Regions from separate parts of the Homo sapiens genome. Here regions 1, 2 and 4 are each reported to be linked to region 3. The links are microRNA targets in miRTarBase. Many come from high-throughput screens and were not tested one by one. Region 3 holds a microRNA gene; each other region holds the end of a gene's coding sequence.
What was found. The annotated mature microRNA hsa-miR-8089 reads CCUGGGGACAGGGGAUUGGGGCAG and lies in region 3 at 1,548-1,571, opposite strand. An mRNA with a match to its seed (bases 2 to 7 or 8) in the 3' UTR can be bound and repressed. Matches are read on the target gene's strand: a 7mer-m8 pairs with bases 2 to 8, a 7mer-A1 pairs with bases 2 to 7 and ends in A, and an 8mer does both.

Region 1 (3,119 bases), not on the chromosome of region 3:
ATTTGAGTCTATGTGTCCCTGTCCCACATCCTCTGTAAGGTGCAGAGAAGTCCATGAGCAAGATGGAGCACTTCTAGTGGGTCCAAGTCAGGGACACTATTCAGCAATCTACAGTGCACAGGGCAGTTCCCCAACAGAGAATTACCTGGTCCTGAATGTCGGATCTGGCCCCTTCCTTCCCCACTGTATAATGTGAAAACCTCTATGCTTTGGTTCCCTTGTCTGCAAAACAGGGATAATCCCAGAACTGAGTTGTCCATGTAAAGTGCTTAGAACAGGGAGTGCTTGGCTTGGGGAGTGTCACCTGCAGTCATTCATTATGCCCAGACAGGATGTTTCTTTATAGAAACGTGGAGGCCAGTTAGAACGACTCACCGCTTCTCACCACTGCCCATGTTTTGGTGTGTGTTTCAGGTCCACTTCATCAACCCGGAAACGGTGCCCAAGCCCTGCTGTGCGCCCACGCAGCTCAATGCCATCTCCGTCCTCTACTTCGATGACAGCTCCAACGTCATCCTGAAGAAATACAGAAACATGGTGGTCCGGGCCTGTGGCTGCCACTAGCTCCTCCGAGAATTCAGACCCTTTGGGGCCAAGTTTTTCTGGATCCTCCATTGCTCGCCTTGGCCAGGAACCAGCAGACCAACTGCCTTTTGTGAGACCTTCCCCTCCCTATCCCCAACTTTAAAGGTGTGAGAGTATTAGGAAACATGAGCAGCATATGGCTTTTGATCAGTTTTTCAGTGGCAGCATCCAATGAACAAGATCCTACAAGCTGTGCAGGCAAAACCTAGCAGGAAAAAAAAACAACGCATAAAGAAAAATGGCCGGGCCAGGTCATTGGCTGGGAAGTCTCAGCCATGCACGGACTCGTTTCCAGAGGTAATTATGAGCGCCTACCAGCCAGGCCACCCAGCCGTGGGAGGAAGGGGGCGTGGCAAGGGGTGGGCACATTGGTGTCTGTGCGAAAGGAAAATTGACCCGGAAGTTCCTGTAATAAATGTCACAATAAAACGAATGAATGAAAATGGTTAGGACGTTACAGATATATTTTCCTAAACAATTTATCCCCATTTCTCGGTTTATCCTGATGCGTAAACAGAAGCTGTGTCAAGTGGAGGGCGGGGAGGTCCCTCTCCATTCCCTACAGTTTTCATCCTGAGGCTTGCAGAGGCCCAGTGTTTACCGAGGTTTGCCCAAATCCAAGATCTAGTGGGAGGGGAAAGAGCAAATGTCTGCTCCGAGGAGGGCGGTGTGTTGATCTTTGGAGGAAAAATATGTTCTGTTGTTCAGCTGGATTTGCCGTGGCAGAAATGAAACTAGGTGTGTGAAATACCCGCAGACATTTGGGATTGGCTTTTCACCTCGCCCCAGTGGTAGTAAATCCATGTGAAATTGCAGAGGGGACAAGGACAGCAAGTAGGATGGAACTTGCAACTCAACCCTGTTGTTAAGAAGCACCAATGGGCCGGGCACAGTAGCTCCCACCTGTAATCCCAGCACTTTGGGAGGCTGAGGTGGGCGGATCATTTGAGGTCAGGAGTTCGAGACCAGCCTGGCCAACATGGTGAAACCCCATCTCTACTAAAAATACAAAAATTAGCCGGGCATGGTGGCACGCACCTGTAATCCCAGCTACTCTGGAGGCTGAGGCAGGAGAATTGCTTGAACCCCAGAGGTGGAGGTTGCAGTGAGCCAAGATCGTCCCACTGCACTCCAGCTTGGGTGACAAAACAAGACTCCATCTCAAAAGAAAAAAAAAACAGCACCAATGAAGCCTAGTTCTCCACGGGAGTGGGGTGAGCAGGAGCACTGCACATCGCCCCAGTGGACCCTCTGGTCTTTGTCTGCAGTGGCATTCCAAGGCTGGGCCCTGGCAAGGGCACCCGTGGCTGTCTCTTCATTTGCAGACCCTGATCAGAAGTCTCTGCAAACAAATTTGCTCCTTGAATTAAGGGGGAGATGGCATAATAGGAGGTCTGATGGGTGCAGGATGTGCTGGACTTACATTGCAAATAGAAGCCTTGTTGAGGGTGACATCCTAACCAAGTGTCCCGATTTGGAGGTGGCATTTCTGACGTGGCTCTTGGTGTAAGCCTGCCTTGCCTTGGCTGGTGAGTCCCATAAATAGTATGCACTCAGCCTCCGGCCACAAACACAAGGCCTAGGGGAGGGCTAGACTGTCTGCAAACGTTTTCTGCATCTGTAAAGAAAACAAGGTGATCGAAAACTGTGGCCATGTGGAACCCGGTCTTGTGGGGGACTGTTTCTCCATCTTGACTCAGACAGTTCCTGGAAACACCGGGGCTCTGTTTTTATTTTCTTTGATGTTTTTCTTCTTTAGTAGCTTGGGCTGCAGCCTCCACTCTCTAGTCACTGGGGAGGAGTATTTTTTGTTATGTTTGGTTTCATTTGCTGGCAGAGCTGGGGCTTTTTGTGTGATCCCTCTTGGTGTGAGTTTTCTGACCCAACCAGCCTCTGGTTAGCATCATTTGTACATTTAAACCTGTAAATAGTTGTTACAAAGCAAAGAGATTATTTATTTCCATCCAAAGCTCTTTTGAACACCCCCCCCCCTTTAATCCCTCGTTCAGGACGATGAGCTTGCTTTCCTTCAACCTGTTTGTTTTCTTATTTAAGACTATTTATTAATGGTTGGACCAATGTACTCACAGCTGTTGCGTCGAGCAGTCCTTAGTGAAAATTCTGTATAAATAGACAAAATGAAAAGGGTTTGACCTTGCAATAAAAGGAGACGTTTGGTTCTGGCTCTTTGGCCTGTGTCTGTCTGTGTGTGTTGTGTTTTTCTCTCAGTTCTTGGACACTGAAGTTCTCTCACACTGCTAAGAGCTCCCTGCCTTCGTCTCCACCGTGAACGCTCTGTTTAGCATCCAGGCCTTGCGGGGAAGTGGCCGCTCGTCAATATTTGGTGCAGCTGTGTGGGGCTCCGGGCAGGAGAGATGGAACCAAGCAACACATGTGAATTTGGTAGGCTCGACTACAAAGGTCCTTGATTGAATTACAGTGCAGCTGTCAGCAGCTGTTTCAAAGAGGCAGGGGGTAAATTAGCTGTGTTTACTGCTAACATAGTTGAAAGATTTAGTCATCCCAATAAAATA
Region 2 (3,096 bases), not on the chromosome of region 3:
TGCCTTCCTGACTCCAAACTCCCTGGTGCATCTCCCCCTGGCTCTGCCAAGATGGCAGCTGGCCAGGTGCGGTGGAATGGGAATGTTGCCAGGCTACCCCACCAGGGAACTAGCCTCCCTCCTCTCCACCCGGCGCTGACCCACTCCTAAGTCAGCTGGACCCACTACGTCCTCTGAAGTGGCTTCCTTCACTCCAGTTCTTCCCAAAAGGATGCGGCCTTGGCTGCCTGTGCCCCGGGCCTCCAGCCTCTGAAAGGTCAGTTCTATCCCCCGCACCAGGGCACAGGTTTGGTGGGTGTCCTTGGGGAACAAGGTGTGGCAAGGACACCTGGTGGCAGGCGTCCTTGGGGGAACAAGCTCTCCCCTCACCCAGTGCCCAGATAGCAACCCCCTCCCCACTGCCCCGCATCCTGGCTCCTTCATCCTCCTCTCCTTCCTCTGCATCCCATTCTTGCCCCCAACCCACATCTCCATTTACCTCTTCCCCGCTCCCGAGTCCTTTTTCCGCCTTTTCATCCATTTCCCCTCCCCCACCCCAAGCTCTCGGGCAGCCTCTCAGCTGGTCTCTCATCTCTCTCCACCTCTGCCCCGTCTCTCTCGATCTCTCCTCCTCGCGCTGTTTCTCTGTGCCTGTGCGTCCCCCTCGCTCCTTCTCCAATCATCTCTCATCTCCCTGTCTCTGCACCCCTCTTCTCCTCACCCCAGTGTCTTCTCCCATTCCCAGTCGCTTGCTGCGCCCCTCCCCTCACTCTCTCCTAACTCTGCTCTCCCCCTCCAACGCTGGGCTTGGTTTGCATCTTTGAGGAACTCCCTCCTACCCCAACTCCCTCCCACGGGGCTCCCGCATCCTCCCGCATTTAACTCGGACCCTCTGTCCCGCAGCGCCCCTACCCCAGGCCGACTGGACTGTCCGGGAAGGCGCCGGCGGGGAAGGGGAGCCCAGCGCTGGGACCAGAGCACTGCGGGGAGGCTTTGCCCGGGAGGAGTAAGTGGAGGAGTGAAGTCGGGACTTGGTAAGTTCCAGGTGGCAGGAACCCACTAGGTCCCAACATCTGATTCCGGCTAGGGTCCAGAGTGGGGAGACAGGCAGGGGACTTCTAGGGTCTTTCTTGGAAACCCTAACTCTCAGGTCCAAGTCCTGTGGAAATGAACACAAGGTTGGCAAACACATGGCGCTCAAGCGACCCTCTCCCCTCCGCCGAGGCCCGAGGCGGCTTCCCCTGGCATCCTGCAGGGCACCGCCCCTTCCCTGCAGGTCCAGGCCGCCAGGAGGGGGCGCTGGACGAAGCCGGTCTGCACCAGCAACTAGTGCTGAGGGAGCTGTCCAGGCCCCAGGGCAGGGAGGCTCCCCGGGAGAGATGGCTCTGCCGCCAGACCCACAGGGGAATGACGGGTGTTCAAAAAATACCAGGAGTCTCCCTCACCTGCTCCCTGCCAAGGGGAAGGGAGACGCCCCCACAGTGGGTGGAGGGGGGAGAAACTTCTCACCTGTCCCCCAACACACACACACACACACACGCTCACACGCGCACACACACGCACACACATTTCACCCACATACACATACACTCATGCCTCGGCTCCAAGCACTGCCCATAGGTGCAGACCCTGGGCATATCGCAAGGCGAGAGGTGGGCCAGGAGGAGGAAGAGGCTGGGACAGGGTAACAAGGCTTAGGAAGGGGGACAGGGGTACCCTGTTCAGAGATGACCTGCAAGTTCAAGTTATGCAGAAAAGTATCAAAGAGACAAGACAGTCTCTGCCCTTGGTAGACGCCTGGGGTATGGAGGGCATGAAAAGGGGCAGAAGGGGTAATGCATCCCCCAACTCCCCACCTCTGGGGTCCCCTCCACACCCCCAACCCTGACAACAGGGCCAAGAAGTCTGTGCTGTACAAAACAGGCCAGGGTCAAGGGTCCAGTCATTGGTGAGACATCCCAGCAGAGAGGAGGCCTGGGCAAAAGAGGCCAAGGTCAAGGGCTCAGTCATCAGTGAGATGTTCCAGCAGAGAGGAAGAGGAGGCCAGGCCAGCCCGGGCTGAGCAGCTTCTAAGCTCCAACTGCCGAGGCCACGTACCCCCTCCCGCTACCTCCAGAGCCTGAAAGTCTTTTCTGACTCTGGGCTGATCAGGGCCCCGGTCTGCAGCTGACAGCAGGGCCCTGTGCATCCCTCGGTGCAGCTCTCCCTCAGGGTGAGCTGGGAGCAGGCCGGAATGGAGCAGAGGAGGTCCCAGGGGAGACTGGTGGCACCTGGAGCTTTGTGGCAGATGTGGTGGAACCAACATCAGCCAAAAAAGAAAAAAAAAAAAAGTAGGAAAGAGTCCAGCCCACCCTGGAGCAGTATCTAGAATAAATTTCTTGAAGAGGCAGGGACCAGAAGAGGTGCGGATACAGCCAGGCGGCAGCCCTCCAGACTGAGGGGGCCTGGGGAGCTGGAACTACAGCTCCGCTCTCCCTGGGGATCTGCAGGGACCTCCAGGCCAGTCTAGAGAGGAGAGGAGAAGCCCAAGGGCCTACGCAGATGCAGGCTCCCTTAGGTCAAATTGAGGGAGGAGCAAGAATTAGACCCTCCCAAGGTTTGGAGGGCCTCTCCTCTCCCCCAGGCCACATCCAGGCTTTCCTCTCCTCAAAGCCTGGAGCTTGCAGGGTAGTCGGTGAGAAGTAAGTCTGAGATCAGGGTCTTCCCTCAGAGCTTGAATGGAGTGACGAGAGGGCAGAAGGCAGGACAAGCTGAGGTCAGGCCAATTACTGGGCTGTGATCCTGGCCTTTCAGGGTCCCTGTGAGTGAGCCACGGGGCAGGGAAGGACTCCCCATCCAGAGACATCACCCCCGGGCCGCAACACGGAGCTTACTGTAGAGCCCACAAAATCTAAGAGAGAGAGAGAGAGAGAGAAGGAGAGAGAATTAGAGAAAGTCAGAGGCTGCCTGGGCATTCAGGCTTTCCTTGCACATTCCCCAGGGCACAAGTGGGCAGAGGGGCCGGGCGCGGTGGCTGACGCCTGTAATCCCAGCACTTTGGGAGGCTGAGGCGGGTGGATCACTTGAGGTCAGGAGTTCAAGACCAGCCTGATCAACATGGCACAACCCTGTCTTTAC
Region 3 (3,119 bases):
TGACAGAAATTATGTTTTCAACTTGCCTTTGACATCTGTCCCACTGCATTTTGCTTTAAAATTCTTTATTTAACAATAAATTATCTAAAAAAATAACAGTAGCAAAGCAAAAAGTACTCATCTTTAAAGACAGACTCGACGGAGGGACCGGAAATCAGAAAAACATCAGGGTTGTTTAGGAATTGCAGGTGCAGGAGGAGAGAACAGGAGTGGGGCGGGCTGGGGGCAATGAGAGAGCAAGAAGAAAAGAAAAATAAAAAGAGAAGGAGAAGAAAGAAATGGGCTTTTGCTGGGTGCAGGCAGTGACATTTCTCAGGACCCCTTATTTCTCCCTGTGCCTTCCGGAGGGAGCAGCCCAAGGCTCCTGGGAGGACAAGCAGCACGTGCCCGCCGGCAGAGCTCAGCTCCAGCTGGAGGACCCCTTTGTGGTCCTTGCGCACACTGGGTTTTCCTTCTTCCCCAAATATCCGACGCGTCCAGTCCCTTACTCCTTCCCCAGGCAAAACCTCCTCACCAGGAACAACCTGAAATCAATTTACACTGTAATCAAAATAGCAGAGGGTGGAAAGTGTTTCCTTCGAGGAGGGGACTTACGCTTCAAGTAAGGATTGAGCACCCTGGATCCTTAACTGAAGAGTGAGGTCAGAAAGGGCGGACGCACAGCAGCAAACGGGGAGGAGGGTGCTGTCCAGGAGCCGCTGACTTTTCCCTTCAGGAAGCTGCCAGACCATCTCTCTCTGCTAAAGGCTTTCAAGATGATACCCTTGAGTGTTGGGAGCAAAGGGACCAGGTACCTGTTCCTCCTGGCTCAGAAGATGCTCTTGACAAAGTCTTAGGGAGACCTCAGCTTTAAGTTGTTTTATCTGGCAGCGGGATTTTAAATTTTGTATTCATTAGTTGGCTGGTTGGCTGGTTTTGTGGCTGGCACCGTGTGAGCCGGTCGCTTCTTCAGTGCCTCTGTGTGATGGCAGGTTAGGGTGAGTGTTTGGTCTGTGGCCAGCTGGTTCCTGAGACGGTCATGGTTTTGGGTAACAGGAGTGACGGAAGGGTGTACCCAGACACACGACGTAGCTGGTGAGGAATCTGAATTCGAGAAGTGCAGAGCGAGGCTCTGGAACCAGACAGTGGGTGGAACCCCACCCCACCACTCACCCACTGTGTGCAGGAGCAAGTCACTCAGCTCCTGGGCCTCCGTTTCCTTATCTATAATTTGGACCTATTAGTAATAATAATAATAAAAATAATAATACTGAGGTATAGATAAGTGTTTGATAGATAGGAAGTACCCAATGCATGTTAGTTTTATTACTGTCAGCACGTGTGTGTGTGTGTATGTGTCTGTGTGTGTGCATCTGTGTGTGTGTCTATGTGTGTGTCTGTGTGTGTGTGCATGGGTGTGTCTGTGTGTGTGTGCATGTGTGTGTGTCTGTGTGTGTGTGTGTGTGTCTACAATCCTCCTCCCCTGAAGATTCCATGATGGGAATCACACGGGTGTATCACAACAGAGAACTGAGGTCCCTCTAGCACTTCCACGGTTCTGGAACATCCTGCCCCAATCCCCTGTCCCCAGGAGGTGGCAGCCTGCCCCCAGTCCAGGGAAATTGGAGTGAGTGCTCCTTCTGTGAGAAGGCCAGCTGTGGGACCTGTCTCGCGCCCCATTACCACCTTATGAGCAGACCTGTGTCACAACCTAACACAACCTCGACTAATTCCCCAGAACCCAACCCATCTGAATGGATGCATAAACACACCCTGAGCCCCTCTTGGTTTTGGAAGTTACTAGCTGAACACTGACGTGCCCCTCCTGGTTTTGCTGTCATGGAGCTCTAACCTGTGTCTAGAATCCAGAAGAAAAGACTGAAGTATAAAGGAAAAGAGAAGGGAACAGAAGAGAGGGTGAGAAGGTGCACAACCAGTGTAGACCCCTTTGCTGGAACCCTTCCTTGCCAGCTTCCCCACCTGTCGCAGAGAGGCTTCCACCAGTAGCCACAGAGGGTGAGAGTCTGGACTGTCCAGCCAGGGCCTGGACCCTGCCCGAGGCCTCTGCCCATGCTGGTTATTGTGTGAATCGTGTTCCAATAACTGAGAGGTGTCAACACGGCCCCGCTTCGGGGGGACCCCACCTCCTGTCCTTGAACCTTCTTGAAACACACCTGGAGCTGTCCCAACCTGTCCTCTGTTTGTCCCCTCAATTTTAGCTCTAGGAGACAGGGCCATCAGCCCATGCGCCTCACAGGCCACCCCTCTTCCCTTGTATTCCTGCCTGTCTGGGTGCCTCCTAGCCTAAGGGTCCCTGGGGAGCCTCTACCACCTCATTAACTCACCCTGCACACCTCCTCTGATCCTTCTGCCTCTGCATGGCCCAGCAGCTTTGAAAGTCCTTCCTTCACACCTGCTGATGGTGTTGCTGACAGTGTGGCCAGTGCCCTGTGGCCACAGGACACCGGAAACACCTGCCATGCCAAGGTCTCGGAAGAAAAGCCAAGCCGTGGGGGCCGACGGGGAGACAGAGAGGGTTGGAGAGAGGAGCCCACCGTGGCCTTCCAACAAGGGCACTGTGATGAAGTGAAAGGCAAGGGGTGCAGTCCCAGGACGAAGACAGTGCGTGGGCGTTGGGAAGGCAGGGGGAAGGGAGGTGCTGACTTTGATTTCAAGAGCTCCTAGCAACCCATGGGAGTGGGCATTGGTTTCTTCCATGGTTCAGGCAGAGATTTCGGTCCAGCCAATGACAGAATCTGCCTAAAATCTTGCAGAACTAAATGCAAGAGAAATATGGAGAGTTTTGTGTATCTCCAGAGACTCATTGGCAGCAGCACACTCTCTGGCCGTGAGTCATTAGTGGGTCCCAAGGGAGCAGAGCATCAGGAGTGAGGGGGTAGCCCTTGTCTGGGCCAGGTCTGGGCCTCCTGGGTCATAGATGAGGAAGGGGTGGCTAGATGGGATGACTCCATCACTGTAGCCCCGAAGATGCTATCGACACAGAGACAGTTACCAGCTGGCCTCCTGAAGGCACAACTTGAGGTCCCAGGCCTGGAGGAGAGTGTCCTAGGATGTCGTTGGGGCTGGCAGGCAGCCACCTGCATGCACTCCACTTCTGAGAGAGCAGAACTCTGTGTTTG
Region 4 (3,119 bases), not on the chromosome of region 3:
GGAAAAAAACTATGAACATAGAATCCTACAGCCTGCTAAATTATTCTTCAGAATGAAACAGACCTTTTCAGACACACAAAGCTAAGACTCTACTACTCAGACCATCACTGGAAGAATTACCTTACACAGAATATACTTCATTATAAAGGTAACTGAGCCAATAGGATTACAGAAGTATTTATTGGTATTAACCAAGTCTGACTTCTACCTGGAAAATACAAGATGTATGAAACATATGCATCATTGAGAGGTCCCAATGGCCTTAAAGAAGGTAAAACAGCTCAGTGCAAATAAATAAATTTTACATTAAAAGTTTTAGCAGGGCTCTGGCTAATTTGAATTGTTTTCTTGCACTTTTGTAGAATTTATCCCCAGTTTTCAACTGTGCAAATTTCCATAACTTGAAATAATAAAAGAAAGCACTGCCAATCTAGCAATGTTAAAAAATGTTTCCCATTTTCTTTCATTGAAAAAAATAGGTTCTATACATTTATATATTTATCAAAATTTCAAAACAATTTTATTTTTTGCTATAATTATCTTATTTTCTAGAGGACCTGAAAATAATTTAAGAACACCAACGATAATCATTCAGTCTCACCGATACCACACACAGTTGACCCTTGAACAGCATGGTTTTCAGCTGTGTGGGCCCACTAATAATGCACATCTTCTTCCACCCCCGCAACAGCAAGACCAACCCCTCCTCCTCCTCCTCCTCAGCCTACTACTCAGCATGAAGATAGCATGAGTGAAGACTTTTAGGATGGTCCACTTCCACTGAATGAAGAGTAAACACATTTTCTTTTCCTTAGCTTACACTATTGTAAGAAAACAGTATATAATACATATACCATACACAATATGTGTTCATCAACTGTTTCTTATTGGTAAGGCTTCCCATCAAGAGTAGGCTATTAGTAGTTAAGTTTTGGAGGAGTCAAAAGTTATACATGGATTTTCAACTATGTTGGGGAGTGGTGCCCCTAACTCCTGTTGTTCAAGGGTCAACTATATTTAGTTTCTTTTCATCGTTTCTTGGTAACTTCAACCACATATGTTAATTTCATTAGATTAATCCACAGTACCATATTCTAAGACTTACCACAAAGAAGAAAAACAGACTCTTAACCCAGATGATAATTACATATTTAATACGTGTTGCTTTTAACAGCAATTTTTAAAGTAAACACATCATAGACCTTATAACTTATTAAAGATTTTATAGTGCTTACAAAGTTGATTCTAAAAAATATACCTTATTTGTTCTAAATGAATAACATTATCTGGAAGATATAATAATAAATTATAGTAGTATGTTTTCCACCACGATAGTTAAGATTGTGTACACATATTCAATATGAAATCCTCTTAGGATTTTCACACCTTCAGCCTGAAAACATAAAAGCAGATTAAAGTTTGGCATACAAGATCTCAGTCTGATAGTAATTGCTTTAAAACTCAAAGTGTAAAAATATCTACTTGACATTCTAGGAAAGCATGGCCACATGCACAGACACATTCTCTCACTCACTCCAACACACACGTGTGCACACATACTCACACCCCAGAGTACTCAGAAGATCTTGCCCTTGTGGATCAGACAACTGCCACCAATTTCAAAAACTAATGGAAAAAATTAGCTAAGAATATGTTTAAACCATACTTAAGAGGTGCTGGTTGCCATTAAGATCTTTAACATGCAGAGAATGCCATCTCAATACACTCTTAAACAGACTTGAACTATTCACTAATGGATACACGAATACATGAGAAATTATGTATTCATCCACCCCCAAGACTGCATGTAAGATGAAAAACCTAGGCATTCCACCAACGAGTCATATGACTGAACCCAGCTAAAGCTACAGTGGTTTGCTTCACAGAACCCAATAGAAGACAGAACCCAACAGATTTAGAAACCTCATTGTGATCTGTTTGGAGTTTCCTATATGCTCCATGTGCAAAAGCAATGAGATTCTGTATTGCAGATGACAGCTAATATCACTTTGCACTTTTGTGACACTGCAAGAGGTCACTGTATTTCCAAAACATGTATTTATTCTAATTAAATCCTCTAATGTTCCTTACTTTTAATTATATATACTGTTCCAAATTTAGAACCAAAACAATTTAATGCTGATAACCTCTTCTGCTCATCACATATACTTCCAGTAAAACCTGTCAAAACAGAAAATTACTCTTTGGGCTGTCTCCAGTAACGCAGGTTTGAAACCAGAAGTTCATTTTCACCCTGTATCAAAACACTCCAAACTCTATGAAACAACATTAAATTAGAAACTAACCACAAATTAGGGCACTCATAACTCATACTGCTGTGATTAGAAAAATAAAAAGGCACAACAGTAAGCTAAAGAGAAAATACCAGCTCCCCATATGCTTTTTGTTTGTTTGTTTTTGGCTTTCCTCTTATTTTATTTCACTAAGTCTACAAATTGTTCAAAGCATTCTTATACTCTGCATGACAGGAACAATATCTTGGCACATTAACATTGTGATACAATGTATGGCATGTTTTAAAAAATTAATTTAAAAATTTCATCTATTAATCAACACTTTTTAATGTAGTACATATATATCTTACAGTTATTTAAGTCAAATATGTAAAGGTTTACAACTGATTTACAGATGAAGCAATCACAGATTGCAGTAATATGTGTGTGTGTATATATATATTTATCCATATATACACACACGCCAATCAAGGGGAAAACTGCATCCTGGCAATTTTACAGTCTGAAGTTTTGTTGGTATATCTACCATTTCACATCCTTTTCATCTTGCTTTTCTGTACAAAAGATATTTTTTGCCTTCTTCATTCCTGATGAGATTTTTCTGCGATAACTTTACATTCGTACTGCAAAAATTAAAAGGTTAAAAGGTTAACAGATTAAGACTTCTTTTGAATAGCAACTTCCAAATAAACTGAAAAGCTCTAAAAATGAACATTTTATTACTATGTGCCCATTTATTCCTCAAATAATCCAAGAGTTACATAATTACTATGATTAAATGACAAATGTGACAGGGAAAAAAATAATTCACATTCTGGAAGTGAAAAAGCCACAGCCAAAAGCAAGAGAAAGATGAGATTTCTG

Region 1: miRTarBase lists BMP7 as a target of hsa-miR-8089. Seed matches in the 3' UTR shown: 7mer-A1 at 1,671-1,677.
Region 2: the mRNA of LHFPL4 is a reported target of hsa-miR-8089. Seed matches in the 3' UTR shown: 7mer-m8 at 2,455-2,461, 7mer-m8 at 2,424-2,430 and 7mer-A1 at 1,837-1,843.
Region 4: the mRNA of INSIG2 is a reported target of hsa-miR-8089. The part of its 3' UTR that is shown has no 7-base or 8-base seed match.

Annotation. Positions count from the first base shown.
Region 1 is chr20:57,168,404-57,171,522 of GRCh38, reverse strand. BMP7 (bone morphogenetic protein 7) reads left to right here. Exons shown (of 7, transcript NM_001719.3): 7 at 415-2,770. The coding sequence ends at 564. Among named protein-coding and RNA genes, the nearest start is that of BMP7-AS1, 44 kb to the left of the region's middle.
Region 2 is chr3:9,499,443-9,502,538 of GRCh38, forward strand. LHFPL4 (LHFPL tetraspan subfamily member 4) reads right to left here. Exons shown (of 4, transcript NM_198560.3): 4 at 1-2,869. The coding sequence ends at 2,769. Among named protein-coding and RNA genes, the nearest start is that of LHFPL4, 53 kb to the right of the region's middle. RefSeq lists an enhancer at 1,884-2,609.
Region 3 is chr5:181,041,866-181,044,984 of GRCh38, forward strand. It overlaps MIR8089 (microRNA 8089), which reads right to left and starts at 1,619; the gene lies at 1,538-1,619. All of the region lies in intron 1 of BTNL9 (butyrophilin like 9), which reads left to right.
Region 4 is chr2:118,108,040-118,111,158 of GRCh38, reverse strand. It overlaps INSIG2 (insulin induced gene 2), which reads right to left. Exons shown (of 6, transcript NM_016133.4): 6 at 162-2,878. The coding sequence ends at 2,837. Among named protein-coding and RNA genes, the nearest start is that of INSIG2, 21 kb to the right of the region's middle.